Linked DNA regions of Homo sapiens. The protein of the gene in region 1 purifies or fractionates together with the protein of each later gene. This does not show direct contact. Each region holds a gene or a part of one and is shown in the gene's direction. Other genes may lie near its edges. The genes, in order: ADCK1, SFXN1 and CFAP20.

The links.
Region 2: the proteins of ADCK1 (region 1) and SFXN1 purify together in Homo sapiens (co-immunoprecipitation; one large-scale study listed by IntAct). This does not show direct contact.
Region 3: the proteins of ADCK1 (region 1) and CFAP20 purify together in Homo sapiens (affinity purification with mass spectrometry, with the first as the bait; one large-scale study listed by BioGRID). This does not show direct contact.

Annotation. Positions count from the first base shown.
Region 1 is NC_000014.9:77,928,925-77,932,358, forward strand, and holds part of ADCK1 (aarF domain-containing protein kinase 1), read left to right. Parts: intron 1-2,593; coding exon 2,594-2,787; intron 2,788-3,434. UniProt on the Homo sapiens protein: Appears to be essential for maintaining mitochondrial cristae formation and mitochondrial function by acting via YME1L1 in a kinase-independent manner to regulate essential mitochondrial structural proteins OPA1 and IMMT.
Region 2 is NC_000005.10:175,502,560-175,506,059, forward strand, and holds part of SFXN1 (sideroflexin-1), read left to right. Parts: intron 1-3,500. UniProt on the Homo sapiens protein: Amino acid transporter importing serine, an essential substrate of the mitochondrial branch of the one-carbon pathway, into mitochondria.
Region 3 is NC_000016.10:58,116,161-58,119,536, reverse strand, and holds part of CFAP20 (cilia- and flagella-associated protein 20), read left to right. Parts: intron 1-2,585; coding exon 2,586-2,665; intron 2,666-3,376. UniProt on the Homo sapiens protein: Cilium- and flagellum-specific protein that plays a role in axonemal structure organization and motility. Microtubule inner protein (MIP) part of the dynein-decorated doublet microtubules (DMTs) in cilia axoneme, which is required for motile cilia beating.

The DNA of each region.
Region 1 (3,434 bases):
GTCTGCACGCCTTAACTCTCCAACTATGTGGTGAGTACTTGGAAGGCAAAGACCCCGTCTTGTATATCTTTTTATAAGGTCCCTGCCATCCTGGGACTGGGTCTGGTAGAGGGGCATTTGTGAATGTTCTGGAGACACTTCCTCCATTTGCTCACTTTAGACAACCCAGATAGATCATAAAGTTAGCTACTCCAGGTCAGCCTGGTCTCAGGGATCCACAGGCTCAGTCTTTCTGAGCCCTGCTCTCATTGAGGATTAGGGGAACCTCCAACATTGTATGAAGGAGAATGTTTTCCCCAACTAACCGTGGCTTAAACATAAGGAATTTGTTCTCTCTCCTACAAGAAGCCTGGAGATGGGTGGGTTAGCTCAGTGGATCAACAAATTCAGGTCCCTGGGCTAACTTGTGATTCTCTGGGCTTTCCACCACAATTTCAAGATGACTGTGTGGTTCCAAGCTTTACATCTTCATTCAGTGTGGCTAGAGGCAGGAATAAGGCGCTATGTCTCCTTATATCATTTAAGAGCAAGAAAACCTTTTTTAGAAGTGCCGGCCTCCCTCCAACAGCTTCCTCTTGCCTCATTGGCTGACGCAGGTCACGTGTCCATGCCTAAACCAGTCATGTGGCAAGGGGCTGAGAGCTCAGAGCTAGCCCTGGCTGAACTCAATCCAGATTCCCTGCTGGGGCCAGGGAGGGGCTGCACCTCCCTATGGAGCATGACCCCAAGGGATCAAGTGAACAAAATTTTTTTTTTTTTTGAGACAGAGTCTCGCTCTGTTGTCTAGGCTGGAGTGCAGTGGTGTGATCTCAGCTCACCAAAACCTCTGCCTCCTGGGTTCAAGTGGTTCTCCTGCCTCAGCCTCCTGAGTAGCTGGGACTACAGGTGTATGCCACCATGCCTGGCTAACTTTTGTATTTTTAGTAGAGATGGGGTTTCGCTATGTTGGCCAGGCTGGTCTCGAACTCCTGACCTCGTGATCTGCCCATCTTGGCCTCCCAAAGTGCTAGGATTACAGGTGTGAGCCTGGGTTCTTTTAATAAAGGAGATTGGGGTGAAGACTTAGGTAGATACCCAACAGGGTCTACTGCAGACACCCACCATCAGGATGTGTCTTAGCTGGAGACTGCTGCTCTGAGAGCTGTCCCCCGGTAGTAGCCTGGGTGACTGAAGTTGCTGAGAGGCTGTTGCCAGGCCAGTCCGACCGTGCTGAGAGGGGGGTCCCTGTGGTGAGCAGGGGACTTGTAGCTGTGGCCATAGGTGCCTCTTAAGGTCTGGCTTTGTGTTGAGATGTTCCAGTCTGATAGTTCCTGCCTGAGAGGCAGTTCAAGACATTTCAAGTTTTGCAGTGACTCTGTTCTCAGCAGCGCACACGTGCTTCTGAAAGGACTGAGAGCCCTGCTGCTTCGGAGAGGAGTGGGGTGGTAAAGACTTTCAGCAGCACCCCGGGTCTCCTCATTATGACTTGGCACTGATTGCTTCCTCAGACCTTATCTCTGGTGACCTTCCCAGTGCTGCTGGGAGGCGGGCACAGAGGGTATTGGCATTCCCAATTTTTGGGTGAGGACACTAAGTTGAAAGAGATTAGAGGACTTACCCAGAGTCGTCGAGTCCTGTGGTGAGGTGAGGAGGTGTGGTATTGCCAGATGGTGAGGGCACAGGCTCGGGAGCTGGACTGCCTGGGTTCACGTCCCATCTCACCACTTACTAGCACTTAACTTCTCAATGCCTGTGTTTCCTCATCTTAAATGGGGATAATACACCGATAGGGTTGTTGTGAGGATTAAATCAATTAATACGTGCCAACATTGTCAAAGTGCCTGGCTTCTTTAGTAAATGCTCAATATATGGTGCTTATCGTCACCATCATCATCATATCTATGGAGACTGAAAAGGGGTCAGAACCACACTTATATTTAGGATTTTGCTGGGGGCATTTATCTGCTTAGAGCTGTGAAGAGTGTAGGGACAGGGATCGTGGGGAGGCCAGACCCCAAACTTAAAGACCAGGTAGGTCAAGGGCTGTGGCGATGACCAGCATGAAGGGCTAATCCTGGATCCTAGGCCAGGGCATCAGACCTTGGGCCACAGGTGGGATGAGACTGGCTCTCATGCGAGGACAGTGGTAAGCAATGGAGCGTGAGCAGCAGCATGGTCTGGCAGGGTGCAGGCTATGGGGCAGGACTTTGGAGTTGGGTTGAAGTCAGGTCAGCCTGAGCTAGGCTTGGAGGGGTAGGAGACCAGACTCAGCTGGTACTGGCTTCTGGGGGTCCTTCCAGACCTGATCTAAAATTGCGGCCAGTGAAAAAGCCATGGAGAATAACCTGGTCTCTCGCAATGTATACTGTGTCACATCCAACGCTTTCCTAGAAGTTTGGCTGAGATATCCCCTTCCGGGTTTGTCAGGCTATACAGTGCCTTGTGCTAGACTTCTCTATGGGGAGTGCTCCTAGCAGTGCCAAGACAGCGGTGCCTGAAGCTCCCTCCTGGGGCTTCTTTGCAGCCCTCTGGTCACAGCCTGCCAGACCCCTGCCACCCCTGGCCCCACTGCCCATACCAACCATCTGTTTCTGTTGCCCCATTGCTGCTTCAGGACTTAGAGATTCGCAACAACGCGGCCAACTACCTCCCCCAGATCAGCCATCTCCTCAACCACGTGCCGCGCCAGATGCTGCTCATCTTGAAGACCAACGACCTGCTGCGTGGCATTGAGGCCGCCCTGGGCACCCGCGCCAGCGCCAGCTCCTTTCTCAACATGTCACGTTGCTGCATCAGAGCGCTAGCTGAGTGAGTGTGGGCTCCTCCCTCTCCTCCCCTCCTAGCCCCCTGGCCTGCCCCAGGGGTCCTGCTTTTGCTGCCACCTTTCCCCACCAGTCTACAGGGCCCTGCCTGAGCTTCCCAATCTCCAGATATCCCTGCAGGCAAAGTTAAAGTTTGAAATGTTTTCTGAGAGTCTCAGCCCCATCTAAGTATCCCAAGTTTGAAGTCAGGAAGCCGTGATGTGTATCTCTCCACTAATTGGTCCTGGGACTTGTCAGCCAGGCCAGTGCTCTTTGTCCTATAGATGAGACTGTGACTCAGGTTCTCTTGATCTCAGATCTTTTTATTTATTTATTTATTTAATTTATTTATTTTCTTTTTTGAGACACAGTCTGACTCTGTCCCCCAGGCTGGAGTACAGTGGTGTGATCTCGGCTCACTGCAACCTTCATCTCCCGAATTCAAGCGATTCTCCTGCCTCAGTCTCCCGAGTAGCTAGAATTACAGGCACCCACCACCATATCCAGCTAATTTTTATATTTTTAGTAGAGACGGGGTTTCACCGTGTTGGCCAGGCTGGTCTTGAACTCCTGACCTCGAGTGATCCACCTTCCTTGGCCTCCCAAAGTCCTGGGATTACAGGCATGAGCCACCATGTCCAACCTCAGATCTTT
Region 2 (3,500 bases), on another chromosome or scaffold:
CCGGGCACAGTGGCTCATGCCTGTAATCCCAGCACTTGGGGAGGCGGAGGCGGGAGGATTGCCTGAGCTCAGGAGTTCAAGACCAGCCTGGACAACATGGAGAAACCATGTCTCTACTAAAAATATAAAAAATTAGCCGGGCATGGTGGCACATGCCTGTAATCCCAGCTACCTGGGAGGCTGAGGCAGGAGAATCGCTTGAACCCGGGAAGCAAAGGTTGCGATGAGCCAAGATCACGCCATTGCACTCCAGCCTGGGCAACAAGAACAAAACTCTATCTCAAAATAATAATAATAATAATAATAAATAAATAAATAACTGGTACATCCATCCATCGAACAGATTAACCAACTCATATAAACAACAGGGTGCTTCTCAAAAGTGTTATGCAAAGTCAAAGAGGTCAGACACAAAATACACAAAATATGTATCTACTCACTGTATGATTCCATTTGTGTGAAATTCTTGAAAAGGTAATATAGTGTTAGAAAACAGATCCATTGGTTGGCAGGAAGTGAGGAAATAACTCCAGAGGGGCCCAAGGGAACTGTTGGAGACATGGAAATATCCTGTACCACAATTCCGGGGCGGTTACACCACTGAGTATATTTTTTCAAAACTTAGCAAATTGGACACTTAAAGTGGATGACTTTTATGGTATTTAAATTATACCTCAATAAAGCTGATTTAATTTTAAAATGTTACAAGATCATAGAAAAAAAGGAAATGCTTCCCGATTCATTGCAACCCTGATACAATAAATGATTTAAAAAATACAAAAAGAAACAGTGGCCTGTCTTACAAATTGATAATGCAAAAATCCAAAGTAAAACACCAACACATAGCATCCAACCTTGTGTTAAAACATGAACTGGTAGAATTTATTCCGAGAATGAAAAGGTGATTTATATTTAGGACATTTATTAGTGTAATTTATCACATCAATATGTCAGAGCAAAAAAGCCACATCTTGATAGATGCCCAAAAGAAGGTAAAATTATATATCTATTTCCCATAAAATAATTAATCAGCTAGGCATAATGGGTGGTACTTCTTTAATTATGAAGAATGCATATCCCACATCAGTAGTGAGCAATGCACGAAATAATGGAACACTAGAGCTGAACTTCCCAAAAAGACCTCTAAAGGAAAGGAACCCTGGCCGGGCGTGGTGGCTCACGCCCATAATCCCAACACTTTGAGAGGCCAAGGCAAGTGGATCACCAGAGGTCAGGAATTCGAGACCAGCCTGGCTAACATGGTGAAACCCCGTTTCTACTAAAAATACAAAAAATTATCCAGGCATGGTGGCACGCACCTGTAATCCCAGCTACTCGGGAGGCTGAGGCAGGAGAATTGCTTGAACCTGGGAGGTAGAGGTTGCAGTAGCCGAGATTGCGCCATTGCACTCTAGCTTGGGAAACAAGAGTGACACTCCATCTCAAAAAAAAAAAAAAAAAGGGATCCTATGGAATACTTAAAGAAAGAAAAGAGGGGGGTGGGGGAAGGGAGAGAGGGATCAAGAGAGGCAGAGAGAAAAAGGGAGAGGATTTTGGTAGTCAAATTTGAGAAAGTTTGCATTCCACTCTTGAGAATGTCACATTCTATTAACTGTTCGAAGTTTCCAAAAAGTCCAGGAGTGAAAATAAAGCTGCTTAATCATTTTTCCCAAACTTGGACATGAGCCCTTTGTTTTTTTTCCATAATGTATGTAATATGTATGAGAATACTCGGCCAGGCGAGGTGGCTCACGCCTGTAATCCCAGCACTTTGGGAGGCCAGGGCAGGCAAATCACCTGAGGTCAGGAGTTCAACACCAGCCTGGCCAACATGGTGAAACCCCGTCTCTACTACAAACACAAAAACTAACCGGGCGTGGTGGCGCACACCTGTAGTCGCAGGTACTCCAGAGGCTGAGGCAGGAGAATCGCTTGAACCTGGGAGGTGAAGGTTGCAGTGAGCCAACATTGCATAACTGCACTCCAGCCTGGCAACAGAGCAAGACTCCATCTCAAAAAAAAAAAAAAGAAGAGACCATAACCAACTGAACAACCATAGAACAAATTAAAATACAATGAGGGGGCTATTTATAATAGACACAATGGTAGTTTCCTGTATAAAAGCAACAAGCAATTAGACATTGTTTTTTATTCACTTCATAAGAACAATTTTTTTTGGGCGGGGAGGGTGCGGAGTCTTGCTCTGTCGCCCAGGCTGGAGTGCAGTGGCGCGATCTTGGTTCACTGCAAGCTCTGCCTCCCGGGTTCACGCCATTCTCCTGCCTCAGCCTCCTGAGTAGCTGGGGCTACAGGCGCCCGCCACCACGCCCAGCTGATTTTTTGTATTTTTAGTAGAGACGAGATTTCACAGTGTTAGCCAGAATGGTCTTGATCTCCTGACTTCATGATCCACCTGCCTCGGTCTCCCAAAGTACTGGGATTACAGGCATGAGCCATCGCACCCGGCCAGAACAATTTTTTAAAAATGTAAAGTACTTGGGAAGAAACGCACCCAGAAATTTGCGTCAATGATGAAAACATTTGGAATCATGTTAAGTTTGAGTAAATGGAGAAATGTGCAGTAGGCCTGGGGAGAAAGGCTGGAGATTGTAGAGGTGTCAGTTGTCTCCAGATTAATACGATTTCAGTCAAATTACAACTGTGGTCACCTGTAAAACTGATAAAATAATTCTGACCGGGTGCAGTGACTCATGCCTGTTATCCCAGCACTTTGGGAGGCCGAGGCAGGGGCATCACCTGAGGTTAAGAGTTCAAGACCAGCCTGGCCAACATGGTGAAACCCCATCTCTACTAAAAATACAAAAAAAAAAGCTGAATGTGGTGGCGGGTGCCTGTAATCCCAGTTACCCAGGAGGCCGGGGCAGGAGCATTGCTTGAACCCAGGAGGCGGAGGTTGCAGTGAGCCAAGATCACGCCATTGCATTCCAGCCTGGGCGACAAGAGTGCAACTCCATCACAATAATAATAATAATAATAATAATAATAATAATAATTCTAAGGTTTATCTGGGAGAATAAATTAGTATAAGGCATCTTAGAAAAAGAAAAAGAAGAATAGCGTGTGGGACGGTTGCTCTACCCAAGATTAAAATTGACTGTCAAGTTAAAATGGTGGGTATTGGCATCAGAATATGTAGATAAGTGGAAACACAATAGAAAGTCTAGAAATCAAGGCTGGTATTCACAAACTCTCAACTGATGCAGGCCAGCCAAAAGAGAAAGTTAAGAATGTTTCACATTTTCTTTTCTTTTCTTTTGAGACTTAGTTTCATTCTTGTTGCCCAGGCTGGAGTGCAGTGGCACTGTCTTGACTCACTGCAATCTCTGCCTCCCGGGTTCAAGCAATTCTGCCTCAGCTTTCCGAGCAGCTGGGATTATAGGCGCCTGCCACCATGCCCAGCTAAGTTTTATATTTTTTAGTAGAGATGGGATTTCACCATGTTGGCCAGGCTGGTGTCAAACTCCTGACCTCAGGTGATC
Region 3 (3,376 bases), on another chromosome or scaffold:
CATTTGTGGAAGCATTCTTCATGCTGGCGGCCCTGTGGGCTTTGTGATATGCCCCAGATCTCTGGCTTCCTATAATAGTCCACGGGGGATGTGTTATCCAGGAATTTTTAAAACCCTCCTTGAACCTATTCATATGTGCCAGCTCTTAGGGTGACAGATTCCAGAAGTCAGCAAATATTTGAACGCTTAGTTTATGGCTAGCACTGTGCTAAGCATTGTCGAAGATAGAAATGATGCTTCATAACTGGTCTTGGCTCTTGCTTGAGCTTATTCTTTTTTAAGGAGACAAGACTTGGTTGCAGTTGTGGAAAAGGTGGGCAGTGACATCAGATGTCACCTTTAGAACACCAGGCAGACCATGAGTGGATCAGACTCACAGTGACAGAGCTCACAGAGACTAATGTCTAAAAACAGAAACATATTATTAATAATTTATGTTGAAAAATAAAACTACCAGACCCAACACTGATTTATCCCCATATGCAAGTCTAATAGCCAAATCGTAATCAGCAGGCTGATGAGTGAACAAGAGGAGCTTTAGTCAGTGTGATTGAGTCATTGATTATGGCAGCCTAACACAGCCCTTTCCACAAAGAAAGACCGTATGTTTGTCTTTCTGATGTCTCCTGTTCTAAACCTAGTTGATCTTTTTCATATGTTATTCCATTCAGCCCTAATAGTCCAGCCTTGTTTTTTTGTTTGTTTGTTCATTTTTGAGACAGGATCTCACTCTGTCGCCCAGGCTTGAGTACAGTGGCACAATCACGGCTCACTGCAGCCTCGACCTCCCAGGCTCAGGTTATCCTCCCACCTCAGCCTCCTGAGGAACTGAGACGATAGGCACGTGCCACTACACCTGGCTAATTTTTTGTAGAGATGGGGTTTCATCATGTTGTCCAGACTGGTCTTGAACTCCTGAGCTCAAGCAGTTCTCTCGCCTCGGCCTCCCAAAGTGCTGGGATTACAAGCGTGAACCACCATGCCTGACCCCAGCCATGTTTTTTTGGTTTTGTTTTTTTTTTTTCGTTTTTTGTTTTGTTTTTTTTGAGATAGGGTCTTGCTCTGTCACCTACTCCTCTAGGCTGGAGTGCAGTGGCACAAACACAGCTCACTGCAGCCTGGACCTCCTGAGCTCAAGTGATCCTCCCACCTTAGCCTCCCAAGTAGTTGGGACTATAGGCACACTACAGGTGCACGCCACCACACCTGGCTAATTTTTTGTAGAAACAATGTCTTACTATGTTGCCCAAGCTGATCTTGAACTCCTGAGCTCAAGCTATCCTCCTGCCTTGGCCTCCCAAAGTGCTGGGATTACAGGCATGAGCCACTGTGCCTGGCCCCAGCCCTGTTTTGAAAGTGCCTTTGCATATCTCTGTTCTGTCCATATTAGTTGCTTAAAAGTTTAATGCTTGAAGATAATTGTTCTTTCCTAAATATTTTGAGAGGAGGAATCTGTATTGAATATTGATTCCTCCCCATCATCTACCTCCTACATATGCAGCAAACAATACAAAACAATGTAGGATGAGGTGCTAAATTATGTCGTCTAGACAACATGAGCCAGAAAAACAAATCAGAGAAAAGAGAGGTCAGTGTGGGCTGAAAATGCTAAAGAAGGCATCTGTGTGTGGCACAGATGGGAATTGAATTCCTGCTTTAAAAAGTAGAAAATTAGGCAAAAGCAGATAGGGAAGCATGAAGCAGGATAACTCCAGGGGAGGAATGCTTTCACTTTTTGTTGCTGCCCTCCTCAGTAACACTCAGCTTTTCTTTGGCTTTTCTGGCCAAAGAAATATACAAGGCAGGACGGGCGCAGTGGCCCATGCCTGTAATTCCAGCACTTTGGGAGGCCAAGGCAGGTGGATCACAAGGTCAGGAGTTCGAGACCAGCCTGGCCAACATGGTGAAACCCCGTCTCTACTAAAGATACAAAAAAAAAAATCGGCTGGGCATGGTGCTGCACGCTTATAATCCCAGCTACTCAGGAGGCTGAGGCAAGAGAATCGCTTGAACCTGGAAGGCAGAGGTTGCGGTGAGCCAAGATCGCGCCATTGCACTCCAGCCTGGGCGACAGGGCGAGACTCCGTCTCAGAAAAAAGAAAAAAGAAAGAGAAAGAAAGAAATCTACGAGGCAGTATGAGGCAGTGGAAAGGCTGCTGAATCCTTAGTCTCCTACTTAGGGTTTGGCATTTGCAGTTCCGGGGTGCCAATGTCCACATTTGTAAAATGAAAACAGTATCACCTGCCTTGTTGTTTTTATTGTGTGAGGCTTAAGTGAGAAGGGGATGTGTGTGATATTCCTGGTGCATAGTAGGCATTCAGTAGATATTAGCTGAATCTAAATTGAGTTGATGTATTTGGGGAGAAGTTTCCCCAGATTTAGGGATTGCCAAGTTACCTGGGATTCCCTTGGTGGTTGGTGTGACCCTGTCTAGAGGTAATAGCTTGGCTTACTTACATATAAGCTTCAGTGTGCTGTGTCACAAATTTCTTTGTACGCCTCTTGGGCTACCGTGGTTTTCTTTAAATAGTCCTATTCAGCCTTGTCAGATATTTCAGTACTAATCGAATTTTCTTTCTTGTAGGTACGGAATGGCCACATCAAAAGAATCACTGATAATGACATCCAGTCCCTGGTGCTAGAGATTGAAGGGACAAATGTAAGGTAGGTTGCCACCTCTGTTCTCCCAGAGACATCATATACTAGGGAGGCAGTACGTCATAGAGGTTAATAGCACAGACTGCGGAGTCAGAGTGCCGGATGTGAGTCTATCTCTGCCACTTAGAGCTTACCATGGGCAAGTTACTGAATCCCCCAGACCTTAGCATACTCATCTGTACAATGGGCAGAATAATAGTACATTTTCCTTATAGGGTTATTGCGAGGAGTAAATAAATGAATATATATAAAACACGTAAAGCCTTGCTTAGCACATAGTAAGCACGATGTCAGTATTAGCTATATTATTAACCAAAGTGTGTGTTGGGGTGGGGAGTGGGCAGTGTTGTACAGCTCATCCAGTGGGTGGACAGTGTGGTTTTCAGTGCCATAGAGGTCTCAGTTTTGGTTTTCTGTCATTCGATGGCTCCCCTGGACCAGAATTGAGGTCTTCTCTCACTGGAGGAGCTTCTAAGATCCACTGTCTGGCTTTGTTTTTCAGATATTTTATTGCTGCTGTCTAGTCCTGTGTTAAGCTTTTGTTTCTGGGTCCAGCGTTTGTTAAAGCAGCCGCTGACTTAGGGCTGAGGGATTCACTGGGTGGCGTGTCTGAATCTTTTAGATCTGCTTTCCAGTGTATCCTCTTGGACCGTGTGTTATTGTTGTGCATACCACAAAGGAAGAGAGTCCAGGAGTGTGTTTATTAGTATTTCCTCT